3 separate regions of the Homo sapiens genome follow, and all the other regions are linked to region 2. Evidence: fine-mapped QTL for protein levels in blood plasma. A gene starts in region 2. Each other region holds a variant in brackets. All regions are shown on one strand. Distances are from middle to middle.

Evidence for each region. A credible set is the group of variants that fine-mapping cannot tell apart. PIP is the posterior inclusion probability: the model's chance that the variant is causal. Protein levels are from antibody-based Olink assays in UK Biobank. Linkage for the fine-mapping came from a reference panel and not from the study's own genotypes, which makes the PIPs less certain.
Region 1: its variant is the best candidate, but not a certain one, in a credible set for the plasma level of the KLRF1 protein (UK Biobank, PIP 0.89).
Region 3: its variant is the best candidate, but not a certain one, in a credible set for the plasma level of the KLRF1 protein (UK Biobank, PIP 0.78).

The regions. Positions count from the first base shown.
Region 1 is chr12:9,810,442-9,821,005 of GRCh38, forward strand. It overlaps a transcript of KLRF1 not described here and the pseudogene GCNAP1. Among named protein-coding and RNA genes, the nearest start is that of KLRF1, 12 kb to the right of the region's middle. The variant A/G (reference allele first, on the strand shown) is at 4,776.
Region 2 is chr12:9,822,191-9,832,754 of GRCh38, forward strand. It overlaps KLRF1 (killer cell lectin like receptor F1), which reads left to right and starts at 5,291. Exons shown (of 6, transcript NM_016523.3): 1 at 5,291-5,439; 2 at 10,126-10,224. The coding sequence starts at 5,355.
Region 3 is chr12:9,789,069-9,799,632 of GRCh38, forward strand. No RefSeq gene overlaps it. Among named protein-coding and RNA genes, the nearest start is that of KLRF1, 33 kb to the right of the region's middle. RefSeq lists an enhancer at 8,986-9,085. The variant G/A (reference allele first, on the strand shown) is at 4,912.

The DNA.
Region 1 (10,564 bases), 12 kb before region 2:
GACTATATGCTTAAATTTTCACCTATAGTTTAATGAAATGTTTGTTTTTAAAAGATGTTTGAAGTCTAAAATAGACTCCCCAAACAGTGTCTGACATGTAATAAGTCCTCAGAAAATAATTCATAAATATTGAATGACTAGTAGGATATTAAAATGTGGTCATTCCTGCTGTTTACTTTTATCTGAGGGCACAAATGTCAAGAACAATTCTATAGGTGCTAGACCTCCTATATAGGACATGCTAACAAGCTTGCAAAAGTGTTTATTTCAAATTTCGATCTATCATCTACTTTCAGAGCACATTAAGAGTTTATGAGTGTTCAGAGATTAGGAAGTGAGAATTTTTTTTATGAAGTGACTTGCCAGTGTACTTCCCATTTCCCAATATCTTTCTGTGTCAATAAGCAAAAGAACTTCTCTTTTACCTTAAGCCAAGTTTGGATTCTGTCATATATTGGCAAGTGTCCTCTGGGAGTTGGAGGTTGCAGAGGTGAACACTTTCAGTATGTGAGTTTGTTAGAACTACACATAACCACAGAGTAAAAGCAGATGTGTAGATTAAGCCACACTTCCAGCAATGGTGAGGCTGAAGGGAGTGTTTCCTGTGGGCCGGATGAAGATCTCATACAAAGCAGCCATTTGGGAACCATCCTAAAATAAAATTCACCTAAGACTGCTTCTTACCACAGGCAAGTCAGCCTCAATGAAAAGAAGCTGGAAGTATAGAGTAGAAAGCAAAAAAAAAAAAGGTACCTGGGGAGTTGTGAGGGGTGAGGTACAGTGATTTGCAAGCAGGATTGCCAAAGGAGACATCACACATCAGACAACTGCAGAGTACCCCAGGAGCAGAATTTCTGAAAAACCCATAGAAGTAGTCCAAAAAAAAAAAAAAAAAGAGAGAAAACATTTGGAGTGTCAGCATACAGATTAAAACTGTCCAGGCTGGTAACATCTTTATTCCGTGTTTATTTCTATTCCCTTTGTTTCACCTTCACTCATTCTGGGGATCAGGGTTGGGGAATGGAAAGAGATACTAGAGAGGGAAGAAGCTCATGCAGAGCCCGTTATACTCACTTGCCCCCTTAATGGTCCCAAACTAAGCAGATCCAATCCAAGCTGAGAGAGAGGAAAAGTGTTAAATTAGATAAAAGTTGGACTTAAGATATTAGGCGGAATTGGATCTTTTATTATCTTCATTATCAAAAGACCATGAGATCCACAAAGGAAGGAAAGGAGAAGACTTTATTTTCAGAGGGAAAAATAACCCTAGAATTAGGGAAATGCAGCTTTCGGGAAAATCCGAAAGTTCACTCTCTGAAGAAGTGAGAGGGGGCTGGTATACATGTCTTATACAGTCAGTTTTACATACATACTGAGCAGGGTTGGGAAAATTCTGTGAATACTTATGAATATTCATGAAGGAAGTCAAGCACTAGTGCATTGGGTAAGCAGATGTAACATGCACCCCACGGTCACTTTGGGATGGTGTTTTAACATTAAATCGGGTGGAATTTGGCTCTTTACCTCAAAAGGTGAACTATAGCGTACAAAAATAGTTTGTACATAATCTCCACAAGCTGTCTGTAACTGGTTTAAGGTCTGTGGCCATTCATCAATAAAGAATGTTTATAAGATTGGGTCTGGCCGGGCGCGGTGGCTCACGCCTGTAATCCCAGCACGTTGGGAGGCCGAGGCGGGCGGATCATGAGGTCAGGAGATCACGACAATCCTGGCTAACATGGTGAAACCCCGTCTCTACTAAAAATACATAAAATTAGCCAGACGTGGTGGCGGGCGCCTGTAGTCCCAGCTACTCGGGAGGCTGAGGCAGGAGAATGGTGTGAATCCGGGAGTCAGAGCTTGCAGTGAGCCCAGATTGCACCACTGCACTCCAGCCTGGGCGACAGAGCGAGACGCCGTCTCAGGAAAAAAAAAAAAAAAAAAAAAAAGATTGGGTTCTTTTTCCAATCTGAGTTATGGTAGGACAGTCTGACTTATGGCAGGACAGCAAGGCTGGGGAGAAGGTTGTCCGCTGGCATCAGGCAATCTGTCAAGATATTTTGGAAATTTCCCAGCTATGGTTGTTTTGGCAATGCTTTTCAGTATTTCCTTCCTGTTTAATTATGGGAAGGAAAACTTATGGCAATTAATAACCCTGGGATACCTGACTAGTCCCTCATCCTGCTATCTATCAGATTCTGGTTTCTCATTTGTTTGTCTGTTTCTGTTATTTTACCCACAGGGAGTCTGTTTCATGTTCCTTGGGGTATATTTTATCACCTGAAATACAGAGGATAATATTTATTACCTTAGAGAGAATGGAAAACTTATGGGAATTGCCTATGATGTGGGAAGAAATCAGTCTGACTTCCTAATAAGCAGGGGCAGTTTTGAGACAGAATATTGTTGTTGCTTTCTCTTTTAATGCAGTTTGACCGTATTTGTCAAATCAGTTACTTATTCATTTAATTTTGTAGTGTTGTTTAAGCATTTCAAATGCTTGTACACTTGGAGGATATGAGAGCATTCATCATCAAGAGGTAAAACTTCCATGGGGGATGGGCCGATCACAGAGTGGGTGGTCAGCCATTGGGTTGCCCTCCAGGCTTGGGGGAATATCCTTGCAGCAAAGTGCACTGTGGAAACCTGCTGCCAGTCTCATGGCATTCCCTCTTTTATGTCTTTTTATTTTTTTATTTTTTTAATTAATTAATTTATTATTATTATACTTTAAGTTTTAGGGTACATGTGCACAATGTGCAGGTTAGTTACATATGTATACATGTGCCATGCTGGTTCTTTTATGTCTTAACTGACATATAAATCTAACCAAAAATTCCTTCCTAAAAACCTTGTAGGATTTTAAAATTAATTAATTATTTTCGAGACGGGGACTCTTTCTGTAGCCAGGCTGGAGTGCGGTGGTATGATCAGGGCTCACTGCAGCTTTTAACTTCTGTGCATGTGATCCTCCCACCTCAGCCTCCCCAGTAGCTGGGAGTACAAGCGCAGGCCCCCACGCCCAGCTGGAATTTTAAAAAATAGAATAACAAATTTACAAGGTCGCAATTTCGACTCTTTTCACACATTTCATGATACGGAGGAAGAAAACATTTTTCCCCCGAGAGAGGCTTCAGGATGGCTGTCTACAGGCCCTCAGTACTTTCCTCCACAAAGAAGAACCAAAACACCCAGTAGAAAATCAGACTTGGAATACAGCATCTAAAAGAACACATTCGAATTAAGCAGAGAAGCGACAGGAAAGCTCTGAGGCAGGAAAGAGACAGAGGGGAGGCAGGTAGCTCAGCTGAAACTGTCTGGGAGCCCAGAGACTTCTTAGTGCAGGGAAAGTGTGTCCACATTCCCACCGCAGACTCCTGCAGTCGTAGCCATGGGAGAGCCCTGGGGGCCCCGAGACTAGGATGGGGAGCTGCCTGGAGCCTGCACCGCGCAACAGCACTGTTCCAGGACGGAGCTCAGGCGAGGTCCCACACACCTCCTGGACCAGGCTATTTGGAGCCCAGCCCCAACAAGACTTCATCCTGCCTCGGGTCTCAACAGCTTCCGCATCTCCACATCCCTGGAGCCCCGCAGACATCCTTCACTTCCCCCACAACACCCCACACACCGGGAGGGCTGTAGTGGCACAAGGCTGATTGGTGCCAGCCGTGTGGCTGGGTCCCTGGCACTCTAGCCCCAAAGGTGTTCTACACCCCGGGGGAATCGGCAGTGCAGTGCACTGGGGAGGCTGCCTCCAGTCAAAGGGAGCCAAAACGCAAGCTCCCCAGAGCCTGACAGCCACTTGAGTGAGGTCGCTGCCACTGACAGCCACCCCGACTCCCAATAGCAAAGCAGCTGCGCACCGACAGGCTTTCTCCACCCACTGCCATCTCCACAGCCGGGACTGCCACCACCCAAGCACGCCGCTGGGAGGCGCCTGGGGATTGCCCACTCTGCCAACCACAGCCTGAGCCCTGAGCACAACATAGGGGATTGGGTTGTCTGAGGGTAGGACCACACCACCAAGCAAAGCCTCTCCCAGTGCCTGAGCACACTGCCCAGGGGCCTGGGGATCCATGGCCCTGTCCCACCCGTAGCTCCGCGTATGCTCCTGCACCATCAGGAGGCCTGACTGAAGACCCAGCCTGGCTGCTCGCAAGCCCCACCTACCACAGCCTGTGTGCACCATCAGGAGGCCTGAGGTTGGACCCGCAAAGCCTGGTACGGCCCACAAGTGCCCAAGTGCATCATTCAGTGGCCTGGGGACCGCCTTTCCACCACCGCTGACATCTGCACTCCTTTGGGGGCCCGAGGGCTGCCCGCCCAGCCCACCCTTTGCTGCCACCATAAAAGGTTATTGTAATGGAGGTAAAGAGTAGAATGATAGTTACTAGCAGCTGTGAAGGATGTGTGTGTGTGTGTGTGGGAGGGGGGAGGTATGCAAACATACAATTAGAAGGAATAAGTTCTAGTGTTCAACAGAATAGTAGAGTGACTATAGTTAACGACGATGTATTTTATATTTCAAAATAGTTATGAGAAGATTTGAAGTGTTCCCAACACAAAGAAATAATAAATGCTTGAGGTGATGGATATCCTAAACACCCTGACTTGATAATTACACAACCGATGCATGTATCAAAATATGACATGTACCTTAGAGATACATGAAAATATTATGTACCAATAAGAATATAAAAAAGAAATAAAATGAAACAAGAATACTTTTCTTATAAATCATGATGATAACAAGAACTATAGAAATTGCACCTTCA[A/G]ATTAACTTGACAAGGCAAATCCTACCTATTTTCTAATATACTACTTTCTAGCTTAAATGTAAAAAGCCAGTTATTTCAATGAATTCAAAATTTATTTGTGGAAGTAACAGAAATGTCTCAACATGCTATGGTTTGATTAATCATTTCTACACTAACTTCTGAGAGAAGATTTGACAAGAGGACTCTGGGATAGGAGCTATCTATATCCAGGATGATTCTATCTGAGCCGCAGATGGACTTCTGTGGATTTTTTGTGTGGTTGAGGTCTATTTCTCTGTCAGCAGATACCACTTGAGTAGCAGGAGACAAGGTATAGCTTGCTACGCACTCCATCTTTCTTTTCTTTGACTCTGTCCAGCTAATTGTACAAAGTGTGTGGATCAAGCAATGACCTAGATTATCATTATATTGGATCCAAGTTATTGGTGTGTTTCTTGGGTTGGCCTAGCATTGTATTTACCAAGACTATGAGGAAAGTGGTGCTAAAATACGCTCCTGTAAATCTCCTGGCTTCCAGGCATAGTCCTTACCACAATGTGTAAGAGCAACCCAATTTCTGCCTGTATGGCTGCTGCGGCTGCTGCTGCTTCTTATTCCTCTTCTTATTCTTCTTCTTTTGAGATGGAGTTTCACTCTTGTTGCCCAGGCTGGAGTGCAATGGCGTGATCTCAGCTCACTGAAACCTCCGCCTCCTGGATTCAAGTGATTCTCCTGCTTCAGCCTCCTGAATAGCTGGGATTACAGGCACACGCCACCACGCCTAGCTGATTTTGTATTTTTAGTAGAGATGGGGTTTCTCCAGGTTGGTCAGGCTGGTCTCGAACTCCTGATCTCAGGTGATCTGCCCGCCTCGGCCTCCCAAAGTGCTGAGATTAAACTGTGAGCCACTGCGCCTGGCCACAGCAATCTTCTTCTCTGCCAGCTGCTTCAATGACTGCGGAGCCCAACGTGCAACAAGGAAGTCTCATCTTCCTGTTCATCAGGATAATGGTCATATTCCTTATTAGAATAATCTTGCCATAGGCATTAGAACCTCTAAACCCAGCACAAACAAGATCTTGGGAAAAGGAGACAATTTTCAAGTGAATTATTAGGTGTACTAGTACAAGGCTACTCCAAATCTGAATCCTAACTCTATGCTTTTGTTCCCATACCTGTACATTCTGGCTATGGCAGAGACAGCAACATATATTGGTAAGGCAAATACCCCCTCTTAAAAAACTGAATCCCACACTTGCAAGCTGTTTTATTCCAACTGGTGTCATTAGTGTGCTTTCAGGAAGTCATTTCAATACCCTGGTTAGCCAGTTACTTAGGGGCAAGTAACTTCTTTTTTTTTTTTTGAGATGCAGAAAACATTCTATTTTTTGATTACATGGCTCAGATAGTTTCATTCAGTGTCATCAGCAATGAACTTCATGAAACATGTTCATCTTTCCTGTCTAGGTAGATGTCACAGTAGCCCTGGTTTTTAAGTGTTGCCTCTAAAACTTGTCCTCTTTCCAGCATTCTCTTCTTTTTTTTTTTTTTTTTTGAGACGGAGTCTCACTCTGTCTCCCAGGCTGGAGTGCAGTGGCGCGATCTCGGCTCACTGCAATCTCCGCCTCTCAGGTTCACGCCATTCTCCTGCCTCAGCCTTCCAAGTAGCTGGGCCCAACACCATGCCCGGCTAATATTTTTTTTTCTTTTGTATTTTTATTAGAGATGGGGTTTCACCGTGTTAGCCAGGGTGGTCTCGATCTGCTGACCTCGTGATCCGCCCGCCTCAGCCTCCCATCCAGCATTCTCTTCTTTCTCTCAACCTGCCACTATTGAAAACTCACTTTTCTTTTGCATTTTGTCCTACGTGTGAAAACTATTGAGCTGAAGTAAGACCCAAGGTAGATCCCAAGGGCTTCAGATCTACCCTGTCAAGGGCACAGAATGGTTAGCAATAGAGCCCCTTGTTAAGGTCAATCATGGTTAATAACATGAATGTTAAATTCTAATATTACTTAACAGTATCTAAATTCTAATATCCTTAATTTCACAAAAACAAACTTTTCTAACACTTCTTACCAGTAAAGGATTTAGCTCACACGAATATACTCTCAGATAACCTTAAGAATTCTGCCTTGCTTTGTAATTCCTGCCAGTGCTGCATAAGCCAGCAGTTCTCAGCATCTTTTTATTCTAGCTGATCTCTAGTTTCTCTGGTAGCTTTTTATCACAGACGGAGCTGTTAAACAGGTCGTAGATTCTCTGAACCAGTTCATCCTTATTTCGCTTGAGATTTTTTTCCAGAGTACTGTTTTGACTTTTCAAGGTCAAGCAAGAAACATCCAGGGACTTTGCGCTTATGAGTCCTAGTCTTGCATTTTTCAACTTTGGCCACACCGGGTTTCTTCTTTGAAGGTCCACGGTTTTTCTGTCCCTTACCAGCAGGTGTTACAGATACATTTTTGGTCTTTGCCTTCCTCTTCCTCAGTGGCTCCACTATATTTTTGGTCTTTGCCTGTCTTTTCCTCAGTCACCCCATGATATTTTTTGGTCTTTGCCTTCCTTTTCCTTGATTATTCCACCACAGGTGCAGGCACTTCCTCAGTTGGCAGCTTCCTCTCTGAAACCTCAAGTTTAGTCTCAGGATCACCTGGTGGTTCACTAAGATTCTCACCAAGATCATGCTCAACCAGCATCATCAGATGAATCATGCTGGCAGACAGCAGCCTCATCCAGCTCTTCTTCATCTGAGGCAGTTTGGTCCTCATCATACGAATCTTCTGCTGGCACAGAAACTTCCAAATCATTACTGTCATCATTGTCATCATCACCATCACTAATAACTATTGGAGGGTTCCTGGATGGTGGGCTGCACATAACAACACTCCAGACTCTCATCGTCACTGCTTATTTAGAATATCTTAGCTTTCTTCTCCTCATAGGAGTAGCATTCATCATCAGAGTCAGAGTTGATCACTACCATAGAGCTGGACTGTCTCTTCTGAGCTCTTCTGGCCATAGAAGACCCGTGGTTCTCATCACTGCTTGAATCAACGTTAAGGATGTATCAATTCTCCTCTGGGTTGTGCAAGTGGCACAGCTCTTCTTTGTACCTGTCCATGTCTGGTCTTGCAGCCTCTGGTGTGGCCAGCGGCAGCTCACCTCCAACTGCCCATGGAATGTGTGTGAGATCCTGAGCAACTGGGCAAGTAACTTCTATAGGCATGAACTGATTGTCAATCTTTCTTTGTTGTAAAATGTCAAATACAATATTGTGTGAGGAACCATGACAATGGATAAGACATTCTGTAACTCTTAAGTATTGATGTTAGTAGAAGCACTGTAGGCATAGAAGGCAAATCTGTTCCTAAAATATGTGATTGTTCCTATGAAGACCAAGCAGCATCTAGTCCAAGATTAAAGAGACTTAAGTAATAAATCTGCCCTTAGGTGACTGGCTGGTAAATCTCCTGGTTCCAGGCATAGTCCATGCCAAAATGAAAATGTTTTCCCCCTAAATTTTGCTTTTATTTATTTATTTTTGTATTTAGAATTAGTCTTAGAATGCCAAAAAAATTGTCAGTATTTTTTTGTCTTCTTCAAGTTATAATATTGAGCAAGTGCAGGTAGCCAACTAGAAGCAGCTAGTGTGTGCTGTTCTCACAGGAGAAATAGAAGGGGCTAGTAAATACAGCACCTTCAACTGAAGCATCCAGTTACACACATTGGGATTCATCAAGAAAACAACTCAATCCGTGGAGGATGAAGTAAAGCAAGGCAGGACGACTGCCCACCCGGGAGCAACATGGAGCCAGGGGAGCCTTCCCCACCCAGGGAAGCAGTGAGTGACTGAGCACCTGGGGGAGCACAATTCTCCCATGGATCTTTGCAACCCTTGGGTCAGGAGATCCCCTTGTGAACCCATCCCACAAAGGCCTGCAGTCTGACACACAGAGCTACAGGGAGTCCTGGAAGAGTAGCCTCTCAGGCACACGCAGAGCCCTGGGAGCCTTAGATACCAGGGCTTCCCAGCAAAAGTGGCTGGGAATTTAGACATCTCTACATCCCTAGGAAAGGGGCTGAATCCAAGGGGCTGAGCAGGGATTGTCCGCAGGCCCTGCTTCCATGGCACCTCACAGGATAAGACCCTCTGGCTTGGAACTCCAGCCAGCCACTGGTAGCAAGGTTATACCTCCCCTGAGATGAATCTCTCAGAAGGAGGGGCTGGACATCATTTTTGCTGTTTTGCAGCCTTAGCCATTGTTGCCAAAATCCAAGGTGACTAAGGATTGGAGAAGCCCCCAAAATAGCACAGCTGCTCTACAGGGAGGCTGCCAGACTGTTTTTTTCACGTGGGTCTTGGATCCCATTTCTCTTCACTGAGCAAAATCTCCTCACTGAGGTCCACAACCACCTCCACAAGTGTTTTTGAGCTGGCAACAGGTCTGTACCCCTCTGGGATGGGGTTTCCAGAGGCAAGGATAGCCCACCATCCTTGCTGTCTTACAGCCTTAGCCATTGTTGCCTTCAGGGAGTCTGAGGCGACTAGGGACTGGAGTGGTCCCCTGGCAGAGCACAGCAGCTCTACAGAAAAGTGGCCAGATTGCCTTTCCATGTGAATCCCAGACCCTGTTTCTCTTTACTGGCTGGAATCTCAAAACCAAGATTTACAACCACCGGGTGTTTTCCAGTTGACAACACGTCTGTACCTCCCTAGGATGGAGCTCCCAGAGGGAAAGGCAGGCTGCCATTTGTGCTGCTTCACAGCCTTCACTGTTGTCACTTTTGGGCGTTGGAGAGTCTGAGGTTATGAGGGGGCTGGTTGGACCCTCAACACAGCACAGCTGCTTTACAAGAAAGTGGCCAGAGTGCTTTTTTATAGCAGTCACTGATCCTGTTTCTCCTCACTGGGTGTGACCACCCAACTGGGATCACCAGCCACCCTCACCAGTGTGTTTGGGCCAGCAACATGTTGGAACCTCCCTGGGATGGAGCTCCCAGTGGGAGAGGCAGGCTGCCATCTTTGCTGTTTCACAGCCTTCACTGTTGATACCTTCAGGTACTGGAAAATCCGAGGTAACTAGGGACTGGAGTGGACTCCCAGAATACTGCAACAGCCCTGCAAGAATGGTGGCCAGATTGTTACATGACCAGACTGTTACCTTGATCCCGTATCTCCTCGCTGGGCGGGTCTTCTCAGCCTGGGCCTCCAGCCACCCCCTGCTGTGGCTCTCGAGCCAGTAGCAGCTCTGCCACTTCCTGGACAGAGTTCCCAGTGGGAGGGGAAGGTTGCCATCTTTGCCGTCTTGCATCCCTCGCTCTGTCTCCAGGCTCTGGAGAGTCTGTGGGGACCAGGGGCTGATCTGGCCCTCAGCACAGAGCACCCACCTCATGAATAAGTGGCTGGACTGTTCTCCACACACATGCTGGACCTCACTTCTCCTCCCTGGGCACAGCCGCTGGACATGGTACTGCAGCACAACCACCCTGCCCCCAACTTACCACTTCAATCAAAGGCAGCCCAGCATTTCTCTGAGGAGGAAATCACAGAGTCAACCCACAACCCCTCCACCACTGCAGTTGCAGCGGTGCTGCCTAATGGCCGTTGGGCTGGGGAAAGAACAAAGGGCCTAGTGACCACACTGGCCCCTCCAGCACACCACAGTCAACATACAGAAAGAGTCCAGCCCCTTTTCCCTGAGAACTTACACCCCCTAACTCTTCACCAGGCAGGGCCCCTGGCTCATGACCACAGAATGGTTGCCCCATACATGGCTGACCATACCCACTGGTAGTGGCTCAGAGTTCC
Region 2 (10,564 bases):
AATTCCGAATATGGATAGAAATGAAGATCATCAGCATTCAGGAAAATGGTAAAACCCAATCCAAGAAAACTAAGAATCACACTAAAACAATACAAAAGCTGACAGACAGAATAACCACTATAGAAAAGAACCTAACTGATCTGCTAGAGCTGGAAAACACATTACAAGAATTTCACAATACAATTCCAAGTATTGACAGTGGAATTGACCAAGCTGAAGAACTTGAAGACTAGCCCTCTAAAATAAGACAGTCAGACAAAAACAAAGGAAAAAGAATGAAAAGGAAGGAACAAAATCTTTGAGAAATATAGGATTATGTAAAGGCGCCAAATCTACAAATCATCGACATCCCTGAAAGGGATGGGGAGATACAAGCTGGCATAATAACCAACTAACAATACAATGACAGGATCAAATCCACACATATGAATACTAACCTTGAATGTAAACAGACTAGCTGCCCCATTTAAAAGGTGCAGAGTGGCAAGCTGGATAAAAAATCAAAGCTCAATGGTATGCTATCTTCAGTAGAACCATCTCACACACAATGACACACAGGCTTGAAATAAAGGGATGGAGGAAAATCTAACAAGCAAATGAAAATCAGTAAAAAAAAACAGGGTTTGCAATCCTAATTTCAGACAAAACAGACTTTAAACCAATAAAGATGAAAAAAGACAAAGAAGGACATTACATAATAATAAATTCAATTCAGCGAGAAGACTTAACTATCCCAAATATATATGTACCTAGTACAGGAGCACCCAAATTCATAAAGCAAGTTCTTAGCTACAAAGAGTCTTAAATATTTACAAAATAATAGTGGGAGACTTTAACACTCCAGACAGGTCATCAAGGGAGCAAATTAACAAAGATATTCAGAACCTGAACTTGACATTGGACCAAATGGATTTGATAGACCTTTACAGTACTCCGAACCCAGAAAACCAGTATATACATTCTTCTCATTGCCACATGCCACATAATCTAAAATTGACCGCACAATTGAATGTAAAACAATTCTTAGCAAATGCAAAAAAAAAAAACAAAAACTCAAAAACCAAAAAACAAAAAAAGCAAAATCATGCCAAACACATTCTTGGACCACAACGCAATAAAAATAGAAATCAAGACAAAACAAATCACTCAAAACCATGCAATTACATGGGAATTAAACAACATGCTCCTGAATGACTTTGGGGATAAATAATGAAATTAAGGCAGACATCGAAACATTCTTTGAAACTCATGAGAACAAAGATACGACATACCAGAATCTCTGAGACACAGCTAAGGCAGTATTAAGAGAAAAACTTATAGCGCTAAACGCCTACACAAAAAAGTTAGAAAGATCTCAAATTTAACACTCTAACATATAACTAAAAGAACTGGAGAAGTAAGAGCCAACCAACCTCAAAGGTAGCAGAAGACTAAATATAACCAAAATCAGAGCTGAACGGAAAGAGATTGAGATACAAAAGAAACATCAAAAAGATCAACAAATCCAGGGGTTGGTTTTTTGGAAAAAAAAAAAAGTCTCTCATTGGACTAATAATGAAGACAAGAGAGAAGACTCAAATAAATACAATTAGAAACTACAATGGGGATGGTACCACTGACCCCCATGAAATATAAATAACCATCAAAGACTACTACAAACACCTCTATGTATACCAAACTAGAAAACTTCGAAGATATAGATAAATTCCTGGACACATACAGCCTCCCAACACCGAACCAGGGGGAAATTGATTTCCTTAACAGACCAATAATGAGCTCTGAAATTGAATTAGTAATAAATAGCCTACCAACCAAAAAAAGCTCAGATGGATTCACAGCCAAATTCTGCCAGATGTACAGAGCTGGTACCATTCCCATGGAAACTATTCCAAAAATTTGAGTTGAAAGGACTCCTCCCTAACTCATTCTATGAGGCCAACATCATCCTGATACCAAAACTGGCAGAAGCACAACAAAAAAAAGAAAACTCGAGGCCGGCATCCTTGAAAAACATAGATGCAAAAATTCTCAACAAAATACTGACAAACTGAATCCAGCACCACTCAAAGAGCTAATTCACCATGATCAAGTGGACATTATCTCTGGGATGCAAGGTTGGTTCAACATACACAACTCAATAAATATGACTCATTTCATAAACAGAACTAAACACAAAAATCACATGATTATTTCAATAGAAACAGTAAGAGGTTTCAATAAAACCAACACGCTTTCATGTTAAAATCACTCAATAAACTATGTATTGCAGAAACATCTCAAAATAATAAGAGCCAGCTGTAATAAGCCCACAGCCAACATTATCCTGAACAGGTGAAAGCTGGAAGCATTCCCCTTGAAAAGCACAAGACACGAATGCCCACTCTCAACATTCCTATTCAACATAGTATTGGAAATCCTTGCCAGAGCAATCAGGTGAGAGAAAGAAATGAAGGGCATCCAAATAGGAAGAGAGGACGTAAAACTATTCCTGTTTTCAGACCATATGATTATATACCTAGAAAACCCCATACTCTTGGCCAAAAAGCTCCTTCAACTGATAAACAACATCAGCAAAGTTTCAGGATACAAAATCAACATACAAAAATCACCAACATTCCTGTACACCTATACACAACACCCAAGCTGACAGCCAAATCAGGAATGCAATTCCATTTATGATAGCCACAAAAACAATAAAATACATAGGAATACAGTCAACCAGGGAGGTGAAAGAGCTCTACAAGGATAATTACAAAACATTGCTTAAAGAAATCAGAGATGACACAAACAAATGAAAAACATTCCATGCTCATGGATCAGAATAATAAATATCATTAAAATGGTCATATTGCCCAAAGCAATTTACAGATTTAATGCTATTCCTATCATACTACCAATGACATTCTTCACAGAACTAGAAGAAAACTATTTTAAAATTCATCTGGAACAGAAAAATTAGCCCAAATAGCCAAGGCAATCCTAAGCAAAAAGAACAACACTGGAGGCATCACATTGCCCAACTTCAAATTATACTACAGTACTACAATATCCAAAATAACAAGGTACTGGTAAAAAAAAAAAAAAAAGCAGACACATAGACCATTGGAACACAATGGTCTAATGCAGACACATAGACCACTGGACAGAAAGCCCAGAAATAGTGCTGCACAACTACACCCATCTGATCTTCAGCAAAGCTGACAAAAACAAGCCATGGGAAAAGGATTCCCTTTTTAATAAATGGTGCTGAGATAACTGGCTAGCCACATGCTGAAGATTGAAAGTGGACCCCTTCCTTATACCATATACAAAGCTCAACTCAAGATGGATAAAATACTTATGTCTAAAACCCCAAAATATAAAAAACCCTGGAAGATAACCTAGGAATTACCATCCTGGACACAGGAATGGGCAAATATTTCATGACAAAGATGCCAAAAGCAATTGCAACAAAAGTGAAACAAAACAAAACAAACAAACAAAATAATTAACTGTAAGAGCTTCTGCACAGCAAGAGAAACTATCAACAGAGTGAACAGATAATCTACAGAATGGGAGAAAATTTTTGCAGACTATGCATTTGACAAAGGTCTAATATCCAGCATCTGTAAGAAACTTAAACCAATCAACAAGCAAAAAATAAACAACCCCATTAAAAAGTGGACTAAGGACATGAACAGATACTTTTCGTGTTTTATTTATCAATCTTAATTTACTTCTTATCCATTTGGAGTGTCAAATAATGGCCAAAGAAATTGTAATTATAAATTAAAGAACAAAATTTAGCAAGTAAAAATAAACAAAAATAACACAAAAATGTATTATCCTTTTACTTTTGTCATTAAGCAACAAATATATTTCTGATAATTTGTCAAATATTTTCTCCTTGAATTAATAGTTTATCTTATTTAAAAGGGTATATTGTGTTTTTAAAATTTTATTTTAAATTTGGGAGTACATGTGCAAATTTGTTACATAGGTAAACTTGTGTAATGGGGGTTTGCTGTAAAGATTATTTCTTCACCCAGGTATTAACCCTAGTACCCATTAGTTATTTTTCCTGATCCTTTCCCTCTTCCCACCCTCTATCCTCCAGTAGGCACTAATCATTAGGGAAATGCAAATTAAAACCACAGTAAGATACCATCTCATACCAGTCGAATGGCTATTATTAAAAAGTCAAAAAATAACAGATGCTGATGAGGTAGTGGAGAAAAGGGTTCACTTATACACCTTTGATGGGAGTGTAAATTAGTTCAACCATTATGAAAGATAGCATGGTGATTCCTTAAAGACCTAAAACCAGAAATTTGACCCAGCAATCCCATTACTGGTATATACCCAAAGGAATATAAATCTATCATAAAGACACATGCATGCATCTGTTCATGGCAGCACTGTTGACAATAGCAAAGACATGCAATCAACCTAAATGCCCATCAATGGTAGACTGGATAAAGAAAATGTGATACACATATACAAAGGAATACTATGCAGCTATAAAAAAGAATGAGATGATGTCCATTGCAGGAACATAGATGAAGCTAGAGGCCGTTACCCTTAACAAACTAATGGAGGAACAGAAAACCAAATACCACATGTTCTCACTAATAATTGGGATCTAAATGATGAGAACACATGTACACATAGAGGAGAATGACAGACACCGGAGCCTACTTGAAGGTGGAGGGTGAGAGGAGGGGCAGGATCAGAAAAACATAACTATGTAGTACTAGTCTGAATACCTGGGTGATGAAATAATATGTACAACAAACCCCTGTGACATGATTTTACCTATATAACAAACCTACACATGTAGCCCTGAACCTAAAAGTTAAAAAAAATCAAATTATACTGTTAAATTATTAGCATGATTTATAAACAATATTGTTTTAGGATAAAGAATTTAATTGCTTGGCAATTGCAAATTATTAAATTAAATATCAATATGTTAGGGAGGCTAATTCAAATGATATAAATATTTAGGCTATAACAAAAGGCAGCTATATATTATTAACCTCACCTCAAAAAGGGGCATAATTTCCATTCCCTTGACTTTAAGGGTAAATTAAGAGAAATTTGTAAAGCACTCAAAAGAATATTCAATTCAATATGTGGTGGACAGTTGAGAAATTATGTGTTATCTATGTCATGGGAAAGCAACTTTTAAAAAGAAAACATTTCCTCTGAGGTTTTCACAAATAAGTGAAACTGTGAACCCTCATATGTACTGTGAAAGGACAATTTGAGGAGCATCTCTGATTAGCAGCAGATTTATTATTCTTTCCTCATTTCATGTTATACTTAATAAAACAAAACATACCTGTATACACACACATTCACTCACATTGAAGATGCAAGATGAAGAAAGATACATGACATTGAATGTACAGTCAAAGAAAAGGAGTTCTGCCCAAACATCTCAACTTACATTTAAAGGTATGGAATTTAATTTCATTTTTTCAATTGGTGTGAATTAACATGGTAGTTTCCCGTATCCTGTTCCATTGTGTTATTGGACTGTTTCAGTATTTGGGTGCTTTTCTTTCTCCGTCTCTGTATCTCTCTCACCTGTCCTCTCTTTCAATATTAATAATGATTTAAAAATAACAACCTCTCTTACCATTTAAGAAACACCAGTTTCCGGCACTATACAGAATGTTTTATCTATGTTCCTTCATTTAATCTTACAAATTTACTATGAGATAATCTCTCTCTCTCCCATTTATCAATGTGGAACTAACACTTACTTGTAATATTTTGTCTGATATAATTTCTTAAGGACATTCTCTGAGGAAATATGCATACTCAATTAAAATTAATAATTTCAAATTAGTGAATATTTGCTGCCATTCACCTCCTTATCATTCATAGAATATGGTGTTTTAATGCTATTTTTTTTTTTTGAGACGGAGTTTCACTGTTGTTGCCCAGGCTGGAGTGCAATGGCATGATCTCGGCTCACTGCAACCTCTGCCTCCCAGGTTCAAGCAATTCTCCTGCCTCAGCCTCCTGAGTAGCTGAGATTATAGGTGCCCGCCACCATGCCTGGCTAATTTTTTGCGTTTTTAGTAGAGATGGGGTTTTACCATGTTGGCCAGGCTGGTCTTGAACTCCTGACCTCAGGTGATCCACCCACCTGAGTCTTCCAAAGTGTTGGGATTATAGGCATGAGCCACCGCGCCCAGCCTTTAATACTAATTTTTAATTCAACTTCTCAAAAACTTTATGCTTTTCACCAAGTTGACTCAAAATAAAGTTTATACACCAGCAATCAACATTTTAATTTGCTACTTCAAGCATACCCTCCATACACAATGCAATTCCATCATGCCACCTTAATGTGATTTGGCAAAAGAGATAAGCAGAAATTAAAGACACAAATAATCACAGTTATAGAGACTGTCTGTTCTGTTCTGTTGCTTTCTAAATATTTCTCTTTTAATAACTTCACCCATGAAAATTTTACTTATCTCTTGAGTCCTTCCACAAGTATCATCCATCAGTGATTCATCTTAGAGTTACATACGTGCTATGTATAAGAAATTTATTGCCTCTTCCATGTGAATTTTTAGATTCCCATATTTTCAAGTCTTTACTTCCTACACTCAATTTTTATTTCATTTTTGGAAATTAGAGATATTAAACCTGAAAGACTACAACATGTAGTGACTTCTCTGCAGACTTTTTTCCACACTCTGTTCATAAATGTCTCTCTGAAGCAAAAATGTGCAGATTTTCGGCTCCCAGATATTTAAGTGACACATACTAATATTTATGTCTTGTACCTTTAGCTAATATTTATTAAAGCTTGAGGTAAGACGTATTTTATGTGAATTAGATTGACAATGTGAGCCTTGGGGTTATGATGTTCATTCATTTAACTTAATTTTGTGATGACATATTTGTAAATCTTTTCTCATATATTGAAAAACCTTTGTTGCCAGTGATAGTAAGAAATTACATAATTGCTCTATCCCACTATACATATGTAGTAGTTTCAGAATCACTATAGAAATAATATTATAATAATAGTTACTTAAAACAGATTAAAATGTTTTGCGGTTTTAAAAAATCCTTAAGATATATTCCATTGAGCATGCACAGTTAAATGTTTTAAAATCACTTTAAGTAATTCCTCTCTCTATAGTGAAGACACTAACAATACCTAGTTAGATTCCTTTTCTTCATTTTTTATGGATTTTTTTTCATTTTTGTTTAACTTACTTTATAGTAGCATAAAACATTTACATATTTTCAGTCAAACTTATATAATGAGGGGCCAAGTGTGGTGGCTCATGCCATTAATCCCAGCACTTTGGAAGGCCGAGGCAGGATGATCGCTTGAGGCCAGGAGTTCAAGACCTGCCTGGGCAACAAATCAAGACCCCCATCTCTACAAACAATAGAGATAAAAAAATTAATCAGTCATGGTGGCACATGCCTGTAGTCCTAGCTACACAGGGTGCTCAGGAGGGAGGATCTCTGAGCCCAGGAGCTCAAGGTTACAAAGAGCTCTAATGGTGCCACTGCACTCCAACCTGAGCAACAGAGCGAGACCCTGTCTCAAATAAATAAATAAGAATTTAAAAAGTTTAAAAAATTACTTTCAGAGAAATCCACCTTGCATAAATCCAGCACCCTTCATAAAATTTACCATTTTGTATTTCTATATTTCCAGTGTTTACTTAGCTATTCTCACTCTTTTGTTCTTTCAGATAACTTTATAAAAAATTATTCAGGCTCACTCACCACAAACAACAACAAATAAAACAACCCGATGTAGCTTTTACGTCTAAATTACTTCCTAGTCTGTCATTAAGCTTAGGGAGAATTTATATTTTTGACACATAGTTTTCTTATCCAAGCACATGATCAAATTAATGTTACTCAGTTTTCGGTTAGTTTTGTTTTGTTTTGTTTGTATTGGGTTGGGACACTTGTCGAGTTTCTGTCTAGTTTTCTTTTTGTTTGTTTTTTTTGGTTAACTATCCGTGAGTAATGAATTTCTTTCATCTATGTTTTCACAGTGGTTACTGGATTATACAGGGCACTGATTTTAGTATGTTATTTTTATAAATGCAGCTACTATTTTTTGTTTCTGGAATTAACGGTAGTTTTTCAATTGATTCTTTTATTTTACCAAATCTGCACTCACATTACCTTCAAATAATTTTACCTTCTTTTTCTAATATTTCTACCTGTAATTAGAATATTTTTCTTCATTGAATTATATATTACCTCTTCGTATTAAAAAGTAGTGGAGATTTGAGCTATCTTTCTTTTTCTGGACTTAAGCAGAAAACCTTCTTTCAGTTTTCTCAATTGAATAAGATGTTAGCTTCATTAGACATAAAACTATTATGTTGAACAAGTATCTATTAATTTCTGTTTTTTAACATAAAGATATAAGATTTTATCAATTTCATTTTTTACATCTATTGAGATGATGATAGATTTTTTTCCTTAGCTTTATTAATATAATATTAATATGGATTTCCTCCTATTGAATAATCTTTATATTCCTAGAATAAACCAATCATGGTTATAATATATTTTGGTTGCTGATAATGTATTTACCATTTTTGTACAGACATTCATAAGACTGATTTTGGTTTTCCATTTTATTATTTCTGGTTTTGGGTGGTTAAAAGGCTTGTGTTTTAACCTTTATAAGTTAAATTAAACCATTTCCTTATAGGAGAAAACACAGGATAATGAAAGTTTTACTTTCTCCATTATTCAGCATCTTTTAAAATTTTTTTTTACTTTTATTTTTATTTTATTATTATTTTTTTGAGATGGAGTCTCGCTCTGTCGCCCAGGCTGGAGTGCAGTGGCGCGATCTCAGCTCACTACAACCTGTAGTGCTTAGGAGAAATAATTCAGTCTGAGTTGAATTTCAACCACCTTCCACAACTTTTTTTCCTAATGTTTTCTGATAATTATTTTTTAAGTTTTAAAATAAATATATGACTTTTTTAAGACACATGCTTGATTTCTTGGAATTTATTGCTTATCAATATTAATATATCAAAAATTCAAAAATAATCTCAGAAATGTGGAGTATTCATTAAATGAATTCTGATAAAATTATTTTAATATCTTTGACAATGTTATGATAAGAGAAACCCTGCGAACTATTTATCTAAAATATCATTCTATAGGGTTCATCATGTGCTTTCTTGACAGGGCTTGACAGCGTCAAATGTAGTTTCTCTATTTTCTCAGGTTTAAAGAGTATTTAGAATATAAATTTCAGCATTAATAATTCAATTTATTGACTGAACAATAAGAATAATTTCGGTTACAATAGAGGATTCTTATCAATTATTATGATAGATTTACATAAATTATCTTTGATAAGGACAAAATGTTTCACAAAGTATAGATATTCACTTATTCAGTATAACATAATTATTCATGTAATTTCGTAAGTCAGTGCCCAGCAGACCTAAATCCTCTGGATGAGACTCTCTACTGTCTGTCCAATGATAGCAGTTTCTTGAATAATAATCATTGAACAAGCACTCTTATCTTAAACCTGACAGTGTAAGTCTATGAAAAATAAAACAGTTCTTAAAAGTTTAGCATTTAATAAGAAGATGAAATATTATTCATGACTTACAAAGGATTTTAGGGTTTTTTTGATTAAAATAGCAGGATACCTAAAGCCATATTTAGTTCTGATTCATCCTTAGTAAATAAAAAAGGCTCAAAGGACTTGTAAATGTTATATTAATGATTAATCAGAAAGTGTTTATGTGGATACACATGTATTATCTGTAAATGCATGTGCATGTTCATGAGTGCGTGTGTCTCCGCAATGGTTGGAAAATTATTCAGTGCATAGAGTAAAATTCTTTCTACAAATTAATAATGTTAAATATTAGCAATTTCTTCAGATTTGATATGACACGTATCATAGCTTCTGACCATCCAGAGTGTTATCATTGTTAAATAAATGTATATATTTTTCTATTTACTTAGCCTTCATGCTTTTGATTGCCTAATATCTTTTGAAACCAAAACTAATATTTTATACAATCCTATTATTACAATTGCTATTGTATTACTTCCTGGAAGCATACTTTTCTAAACTAATTCATGTGATTAATGTCTCAGATTATTCAGTGACGTTGCACTGGTATAAAATCTTACTGGGAATATCTGGAACCGTGAATGGTATTCTCACTTTGACTTTGATCTCCTTGATCCTGTTGGGTAAGTTTAGAAGATCTTAATTAAATAAAAATATGAAAGATGTTTACTTGTCTCTTATAAATCTTTTTATAATTATTCATTCATTCTTCACTACATTAACCAAGATTGAATTAGAAGCTACTGCATGTAAAGCTCTATTAGTACACTCCACAGTGCTATATTTAATATGCAGTCAAATCAGGTAAGTATCTTGCCCTCAAGTGGCATACAGTCTAATACGGAGAAAGGAGTGTATGTGTAGAGTGTGTGTGTGTGTGTGTGTGTGTGTGTGTGTATGTGTGTGTATGTGTGGTATTTGAAACAGTTTTTCTGTGTTTCTTGGATACTTTAATAGATAAAA
Region 3 (10,564 bases), 33 kb before region 2:
CATGTGGATTCAAGTTACTTCCTAGTTGTCCTTTTATTTCAGTCTGACGGACTCTCTGTAGCATTTATTGTAAGACAAATCTGCTAATAACAAATTCTTTTAATTTATATTTAACTTGGATTGTTAATTCTGGTAATAGGATTGCTAGATCAAATGGCAGGTCTACTTTAGTTCTTCGAGAAATCTCTGTACTATTCTCCATAGGGTTTTTATTAATTTACATTTTCACAAGGAGTGTATAAGTGTTTCCTTTGTAGCATATCTATGTCAACATCCAGAGTTTTCCAGTTTTGTAATTACAGCCATTCTTGCAGGAGTTAGATTGTATCTCATTGTGATTGTAATTTGCATTTCCCTGATTATTAGTGATATTGAGCATTTTTCATGTTTGTTGGCCATTTGTATATCTTCTTTTGAGAAGTGTCTATTTATACAATTTGCTCACTTTTTGATGGAATTATTTGTTTTCTTGCTGATTTGTTTGAGTTCTTTATAAACTCTGGATATTAGTCTTTTGTTAGATGCTTAGTTTGCAAATATTTTCTCCAATTCTGTGGGTTATCTGTTTACTCTGATTATGTCTTTTGGTGTGCAGAAGCTTTTTCATTTAATTAGGTCCCATTTATTTATTTTTGTTTTGTTACCTTTTCTTTTGGAGTATTAATCATAAGCTCTTTGCCTAACCCAATGTTCAGAAGAGTTTTTCTTTAGGTTTTCTTCTAGAATTTTTATGGTATCAAGCCTCAGATTTAAGTCTTTAATCCATCTTGAGTTGATTTTTGTATATAGTGAGGCATAGGGATACAGTTTCTTTCTTCTACATGTGGCTGTCCAGTTTTTCCAGCACCATTTATTGAATTATTTCCCCAATCTACGTACATTTTGTCAAAGATCAGTTGGTTATAAGTATTTGGCTTAATTTCTGGGTTATCTATCTATCCTGTTCCATTGGCTTACGTATTTAATTTTATACCAGTACCATGCTGTTTTGTTTATGATAGCCTTGTAGTATAATTTGAAGTCAGGTAATGTGATGCCTCCAGATTTGTTCTTTTTACTTAGGATTGCTTTGGCTATTCAGGCTCTTTTTTTGGTTCCATATGAATTTTAGAATTGTTTTCTGTAGTTCTGTGAAAAATGATGTTGATATTTTCATGGGAATTGCATTGAATCAGTAGATTGCTTTGGGCAGTGTGGTCATTTTCATGATATTGATGATCATATTATTATAGAAATTATTAAGAAATTATTTCAGGCAGATAGGATAAGTGGTCCTTGGTAAGGTTTTTTTCTTTAAATAAAAGCAGCTCCAGAAACATTTCTTTTTTAGCAAAAAAATGGCTTGAAGGGCCAAGCCAGCAAGCTTTGATATGCAAATGCTGGCTATTAGAAGCTGGGTCCATCCAATATGGCAAGTCCCACCTTCTTCTCCTTGTCACCACATGTGCCAAGCATCATGGCACCCCCAGAGGTCTCCACTGTGCAGAAAATCATGGCGGCCTGCATTTGCATATTAAAAGACTAGGGTGGGAGAGCCAGTTTTTTTGCAGGCTATGTGAATGACATACTAAGTCAAACCAATCCCCTGGGCCTATAAAAATCAGACACCACCTCCTCCAGCCTTCTAATATAACAGATTGTTTCCACCATACTTGGGGTTTCCTCTCTCTGCTTGGAGCCACCCCCACCCCTCACCGACCCCCCGTCTCTGTAGCTGGGAGCTTCTTCTTTCTTTCTTGCCTATTAAACTCTCTGTTCCTTAAAACCACTCCATGTGTGTCCATGTTGTCTTATCTAAATTGGCGTGAGACAAAGGACTCTGGTGTTCCTCCATTCATTGAAGCTGTATCAATATTTTGTATCATTTCAATGAACTACTATAGGCAGCCCATCCCTTAAGTTTCCCTCTTAAGTTTTTTGGTCAGCTTTTCCTTTGCCCCAGCTGTTATTCCATATTAAGCAGCTGCAATGTACAGCAATAGGTGCTGATTGTTTTTGTCAAATACCCCTAGGGAAAAAGTCATTTGCACTGAGCGAGCTCTGTTTGAGATCAACTAAAGTCGTAGGTGGGAATTTCCAAGATCATGTTTGATAGTTTGAATAATGACAGTACTCTAAGAATAATTTTTGGGACTTCTAAACCCTTTATGGCCCCTCTGAGACCTGTTGGGCTACAGTTCACTACTGCTACTATAGTTGTAAGACCTACTATAGTTTTTCAAGGCTACTGTGAAGCTGAGGAATACGGAATAGGAATAGAGCAAGTTAAATCTCCACAAAGGTCACTGTTTTCAATTAAATTCACCTATTTTCTTGAGTAAATGCTTGCCAGATTTTTGCAAGTCTTTGGTTAATTCACAGTATTCTGAGGAAGTTTGTTTTGACAGTTTTTGTCAATGTTCTTGTTGATTTTATGAAGGAATAGCTTTTTGTAGGTCTTTATTCCACTGTTTCTGCTCATGTCTGGCAAGACAATTAAGCAGGTAATTATGAGGGCATGTAGAACACATCTTGGAGAATTTATTCTCAAGGTGGCATTCTATAAAATTATGTAAATATTTAATCTGAGAAGTGAAAGATGAGACAGTTTTCCAGGTGAATAAGGCAGAGGAAAAACAACAACAACAACAACTTTGTAGACAAGGGTAAAATGTACAAGTCTTAGAGATGGGAGAAAGAATGGTCCACTACAGTGAGACTGAAGAATGGAACAAGAGACAAAGCCAGATTACAGGGTGAAATCAATGCTGTTAAATAGTCTGGAATTATTCTAAGTGCAGAAAGAAAGTAATAAATTCTTATAAATTTGGGACAAATTGCAATTAGATATTAATTTTTGGAAGTTAACAGGTGCAATTTTTGGAAGTTACTCAGTCTAACAGGTGCAAGATGAACTGGAATAAAGGGATACCATAGAGAGATGACTGCCTTTAAGACCAATGCAGTGGAAGTAGAGATGATGGAAAGTTGTTGAATTAAAGACATTACTAGTCATTACAGTCTATGATTTATTAGGTAGGGTCATTTAATCAGAAAAAAATGCAGACAGAGAGTCAAGGATGGCCTTCATGCTTTGATTCCTAAAACTGTGGGCAGTATTCTTTCAAATGAGTCAGAAATTAGGGGGTAAAATTAGATTTAGAAAAGAATCAAAATGATCACTTTTGTTTCTGGAATATGTGGGAGATTGAGTTGGATATTTTAATGGACTTTTGGATATATGCTGCTAGCCCTAAGCAAAGGAGTCTGATCAGGAAAATTTATCTATCTATCTATCTATCTATCTATCTATCTATCTATCTATCCATCTATCTATCTATCTATCTGCATATATGTGTGTATATATGTATATATATGTGTGTGTGTGTGTGTATATATATATATATGTCTTCCTTATCTTTTGATTTAAAAACTGGTTTTCCATTTACAATGGGTGCAATGGTGTGTCTCCACTTTGGACTGAAGCCTCATTGTCTCAGCACCTGGGAGTCAGAAGCTTTCAACTGAATCTTCCTTGTATGGCTCTCAGCTAAACAGAAGTGCCTTCTCAAAGTCACACTTTCTCCCAGTGCCAGATGTATCAAACGGCTGGTTCGTGTGGGAGTATAAAAGCTTGGACTTGTTGCCTTATATCAAGATAAACTTGAAAGGGCACTCACCTCCAGAGCTCCCTATACTGTTAGCTGAAGCCTTTGTGTTACTGCATCACAATTCAATATCTGCCTTTGCCCAATCCTTTCTTTCTCATCCACAGGTACTTAACATCCTTTATGTAATCCTTCATCTGAGAGTCTGTTTTTGAGGAACCTGACCTGTAACACAGCCTGAAGAAATTTGGGGACAAATCCTAGCAAAAAATTGGGATATCATTCTTGATGTATTTATTTTTTGGATGATACATATCATTTTACTCCCTAAGAGCCATACCAATCAATACTACAAAAGAATGAGCAAACGGAATTTCTCTGCAGCCTGTATCTCAACAAGATCTGCTCCTCCAACTCCTTGCATCTGGCATTTTTTGGGGGATAATCATAAGGAATGTTTTGACTCTCTGATAAACACACAGAAATGAACATTTTGTAGGAAACCATAAACATGAGTCATACAGATAAAAAGCAAACATAGTTCTATTTACTGTCATCAGAGTATGTAGATCAATATTTTATTGCATTGGAAGCTTCATCTGCCATTTTTAAAGTAATCATTTCAACCAGGAGGATGGTATATTCTGACTGAAAACCTCCCAGGACCATATTATGTAGGCAAATGATTTTTTCCAAAGAAATAGACAGGAAAGTGGCTGTAAAGACAAAATGTATACCTTTGACTATAGTGGCTAAGGCCGTATCTCTGTGTTTTTTCCATTGACCACATGGTTGGTTTGAGTCATAGGTGTACTGAGTCAAATGGAATTGAATGATAAAATCAAGGAGCACTTTGTATCCAGAAGTACAGCAGAACATATCAAATATTAAATTGATGCATAAAATAGGAAATATCTTTGTTTACCTACATGTTAATACTAAAAAGTACTATTGCCCCATGCTTCACGATGAATATCAGGAAAGTAAGAACCATGGGAGATAAAAAATGAATTAACATAGTCTCCGACCTGTGTGTCTACAGTTGAATTTTATACATATAAGCCTTATAAATAAAGCATTTTACCTGCAAAAAAAGTGATCATAAAATAATATGATTACACAATTACACAAGGTGATAAAAGGAAAAGTTCTAATAAAGGGGCTAAGGAGCCGTGTGATAAACCAGTTGTAGGAAATATACTTCTCAGTCTTGCTTTGGATGTTGGAACGGTTTTTGAATGTCCTGGTTTTAGGAAAACTCACCTTCTACCTTTCTTCGAAACTTCAGAATTCATTTGCAACCAAATAAGGAAGTAACTCCTAC[G/A]CATCTGTTTCCTATACACGTTTCTCTTCATTTCACCACAAAACTATGTAATTTATAGGAAGTCAATTTAACTTCTTTTCTTAGAAACAAGAAGTTACAAATTTCAAGGGTATTTTTGGAGGTATTGGCGGTTTACAATTTCATTCAAGGTTATTGTCATAGTTTGTTACACTTTTTAGTATAAGAAAAGCCTAATACAAAATATGTCAAACTAGCAAATAATTGAATTAATTTAAAAGAAGATAAAATGAGAACATTAATAAGAAGAATAAATATAGAACCCAACGTACCTTGAATTTCAGTGAAGCAACAAATTGTTTTTCTTAAAATATCTGTGTTTATATGAGCACTAAGTGGGCTGGGATTGTAAAATCCTGTTAGTAACAGCGGAATCACCTTTGTATCATGACAATGATGAAATTACTGTCTCTTGTCACAGCTGTGTGATTTGACTAATATAATTTGGCTTATATAATTCCCCAGCAATTAAATCTACTTTTCTGATTACACTACACCTGCACCTTAATAGGTGTATTTAGCTGGGGAAATAAAAAATCATGCTGAAATGTCTCATTTAAAAAACATAACCCACTTGAAACAGGCTTTTGTAGTTAGTACTGCACCCTAAACTATTCCTGTCAAGACCACCAATGACCTTCATTTTACAAAACTAATGACTGGTTCTCTGTTTTCATCTTGATTTCCATTTCTTTCTCTTTCTGTTTCTCTCTCTCAGTTTGGCTTGCATGAAACTTTTCTTCTATGTCACTAGTCATTTCTCTGAAGAAGCCCTTTTCACCCCTTTGTTTTCTTCTACTTTATCTGCACAAGCTTCCTAGATTATCTCATCCAGCCCATAGCATTAATGCCTTCCATATTCTTACGACCTGTTTTTCAGCTTTGACCTCCTTTTTGCATTCCATATTTGTCTGGCAACCGCTTAGTCACACTCTCTACTTCAGTGTCAAATTGACATTTTGAATTTAAAATGTTAAAAGCTCATCTTCTCATTTTGCCTTTCATACCAGCTTATTCTCCAGCTTTTCATATCTCAATGGTAGTTTTATCACATTCACACATATCAAAAACTCCTGAGACAACTTTGTCCTCTCTCTCCTAAACACAACATCTAACCCTCAGTGAGCAATGCACACAGAATCATACGTCCACTGCGACCACTGTATTTCACATTTCACGCTAACACCAACAATTGCCTGCTATCGTTAACAGTGTTTTAATTGTGATCTTTCTGCTTCTGTCTTGAAGCAATGGTAAAGAACTCCCTGGACCCCCATATTTATGCCTGGACCCTGCTTTGTTTCTTCAAGGCACTTTTCCTCCAGCCGAATTATTAGTATAAGATTGTTCTGTTTGCTGCCTATCTCCCTTCATTTGAATGTAAGCAGCATAAGGGCATCAGTTTTCTTGTACTAATTGCTATATACCTAGTGCCGAGAACATTGCCAGGTGATAGCAGATGTTCAATAAGTATTTGTTTAATTAATACAGACATCGATGTGTACATATGATAGTGAGCGAGAGTGGGTAGATCGAGGATGATTATATTAAAAGATGTGATCAGAGAGGACTTCTCTGAATAATCCAGATTTCTTCTAGATTTCTCATTTGTAAGTATGGTAGTGCTCCTGAGAGAAAAAGGCACTGCAGACGTGATATGCAGATAGCAAGTCCAAGAAGTAAGAAGCAGAAGCCTTCTTACCTTCGTGTACCATATATTCTCTTTGGTTTTACCCTGCTTTGAAAGGTACCGTGACTCTGTACCTCTCAAAATTTCATTTCCAGTGGTCCAATATATACTCAGCCTGAGCTCGCTGAAAAATCTCCAGCTCTTTTTTTCTGGGCAGGTGATATTGGCAGCATCCTGGCCAGGAGGTCTAGCCTGAGAAATAGAACTTTTTCAAATAGCGTGTCTTGTATTGATTCCTCTTGTTGCATCAGTTAACCACCAAACATTTATCATGATTTAAGTTTACATCCTCAACACTTTTCATATATTTTCTACAGGAGAATGGTGGAAATCAAGGAGGGGGAGTATGTCAACCACTGGAATACTGTGAGGACGAACGCATTGGCTTTTACATGGGTTTTAGGAAGAACCACATGATTGACAGTGTCAGTCCACATCCCTTCTGATTATCCACAAATTAAAAATTGAGCTGAGATCTGAATGGTGATTGAATTTGTCTGGGAAGACACTACCATTGTTGTTTTGATTGTCATTATTTAATATCTGTCATTTAAAGACCCCACCATTTTCTTCCTTTAGGAGGAAAAACCATCTTGGCTTTTCTGCTGTAATTATTCTTCTGGATAACTCTCAGAATAATTTTTGTTCTGATTTTGTCAAGGTATTAAATAATTACTGATATGTTGCTATATTATATATTTAATTTTCGGTTTTCTTCTTACCGGGCTTCTCAGAAAAATTTGACGTAATTGATCTTTACTTTTCCTTTATACACTTCCTTCCTTTGGTTGCTAGAGAAGTAGTATCGATAATACTAGTGATATCAACATCACCATCTTTACCACTTCTAATGCTGCCGCTGACTCTACCACTATCAATCTCTTCATGTGAATTACACATAAGGGTTGTTTTGTGTTTCATATTAACTTTCTTAGGTGTTTTCTTTAAAGTACTCATAATTGTAACTATAATATGCAGTTTCCTATGTAATCATTTGATAGTGGAGGATTTATGGTGAATTATTTTCATGAGACTGCCTGAAATTTTATACTCTCTGGTTAGAGATCTTTTGTTAATTTCTTCCCATAAGTGTGTGTGTGTGTGTGAATTTCATTTTAAAGAAAAAATGAGAAAAAATTTATTTCCAGGACACAGAATAAATTGGAAACAGACATACTTCTGTCTGTTTTTTTTCACTGCTCATTTTATTCAATTCAAAACAATATAAACATTCAGATACTCTTTGAGCTGGTTTCAGGATTTTAGACCTCTGTGAATAATTTTTTTTCTTCTTTTTTACGAGTATTCCAACCACATTTTTGGGGGGAGCAGGCATATTCATTTTGCTGTTGAAATTATGGCAAAAACTGCAATGACTTTTGCACCAATCTAATACATGCTGTCGTTTACAATTAGGTAGCTTTCAAAAGGCAGGGGCCGGCGATCAGCCTTTTATGCATCTAATCTTGGGTAACAAGGACTGGCTGTAATGAACTGTAATGATAACTCCATTATAACTTCAGCTAAAGTATGTGTTGCATATTGTTTTCTTCGTAAATGTTAAACAGGAAGTAAGCATCATTTAGGACAAGGAATTCTCAGAAAAAAAAAATAAACACCACATTGAACGTTTACACAAATTTTAGTGGAACTTACTTTGGCGCAATGCCTAACAGAGTAAGTTACTAACTCTCTTTTTTATTCCTTAAAGAAAGAAAGAAAATAAATGAATTTACAGTAATGTTGGAGTTTTCAGGCCTATTGAAGATTTGGGATAGATTGTGCTAGAACAGATTGACATTGACAGATTTCAAGTTCCTTTTGCAAGTTATTTTACTTTGTATTTTAAAGAGGCAATATGTTTATAAAGCAATCAAATTAGCCTATTTGTGGCATATAAACTTTTTATATAATAAAGCTGGGAAAAAGAAACTCTAATTTCTTTACCAGCTTGAGGGCAATTGACTCTAATACAAGAGGGTTCCTAATCATTAACATATATGTTTATTTGCATTCATAAACTTGAAATGCATATTCAGTTGTCTTATTTGGTATTTAATAGTAGGGGGATATCCTAAATCAAAATTACTTTAATTTATATAATTGTAATCATTTCAATGTTTTTGGAGGGGGAGATAATCCTAAAAACTAAAATTTAAAAGATGAAACTATTCATTATTCCTGCTGTATAACAGATGGTGAATGCAGGCACATAATAATAGGCAGTGTGGCAATACTGAGCACAATGACCAGATCAGGACAGATGCTTAAAAATATTTTAAAAAAATAATTAGAGTAATTGTTTTGTATGACTCGAAGAAAGAATCGGGTTAAATAATAGAGGGCACAGGGCCAGCGAATTAAAGCACATCACTTGATTTTGTGTTTCAAATAACTGCCTTGGAGTAAATGAGCTCCTCAGACCAATTTCTGACACAAGGCCTACACCTCACAGCCTTCCTGTTCTTCTGCATTCCTGCAAGGGCTCTTGCACGTAGACCTTCAGTTCGCTTGTGAACTGTTGCTCTCTAGTGGTGGTGTGAGGCCTTAAGGAAACACCTGCTACTGTGTGGTCAGGAGGTAAAGTGCTGGGCTCTCATATTGTCCTCCCTGTAAACACCTTCCTTTCTGCGTTTGGACACCTTCACCAGATTCTATTTTCCATTTGATCATTAGTCAAACACTTATTAGACAAACAAGTGGGCCAGAAACTGACAGATGTTAGAAATACACAAATAAAAGTTATAGACTCTTCTATTTCATGTGTTTCATAAAGTATTAATGGTATATAAATTAAAAAATAGAAATTAGGTAAGAATAACCTCCATCACCGATATTTGACATTTCCTTTCTCAATTATAAATCATTGATCTTAAGTTATTGTTCTTTCAATATCTGAAACATTCTAGGTATTAAATTGATATTGAGTGAGTGAATGAGTGAAAGAATGAATGCGTGTATGGTAGAAGCTATTTTGGGGAAAACGGTCTTCAATGCTCAGGTATTATTAAGAGCAAAGCTGCTTTCTCTATCTATGTAGTGTTTATGACCAAGAGAAAAGGCTTAGATATATGAGCAGAAACAGAGGATTTTGCAGTTTATTTTCTAAACTTTGGTCTTTTGTACTTTATGTGAATGTTCAATCACATGGTTTTAATATATTTTTCATATATGTTTCAACTTTGTATGATGTGAAATCACAGAAATTATATCATCTGTTGTATTTTATTATATAATATCTATTTTTTGATCCCATAGAAGTACCAGGGTGTTTTTTTTTTTCCTTTCAGGGGTCATTGTTTGCATAAAAAGAAAAAAAAAACTAATTTAACTAGATATTTAAGTGATTTGCAAAGCAGTGTGTTTCCAGCTGTTGAAGGACTAAGGTTTTAAGAGAGTATAGAACCGATTGTACTACTCATTAGTCTAGGTAAAGCTTGTGTGGAGAAACAGCTCCATGAAGTCAGATTTGAGGCCTCTAAGTCCTAGCCCCAGAATTTTACTATCTCTAGGTAACTTTGGAGAATAATATGATTCTTCTTATGTTTCTATTCTTCGTTTTCAAACAAGGTTAACAATCTAAGCTGCAACTAAAGTGTGATAAGAGGTTCTAATGATATAATGCATGTAGAATACATGTAGAAATCACTTCATGTTTGAATTACCACTACCAATGCTCAATCAGAAAAAGTATCTTAATATCCACCTTTGTCTTGTCAATTTGTTCCCTTTCTGTTCTATCAGATGTAGTTCTAGAGATTTCTAAGCCTTGCCATCATACACTTTTTCTCTATATTTGAGCTTAGCCTGTATTGTAAATATAAAATCCTTTGAGGCAGTTGAAGCTTTTACTAATATCTTTATTCTCCAGTATCTAGCACATTAGCTGACAAGCAATAAGTTCTTGATTTATTAATTTATAATGTATAGGCATTTAATATTAAC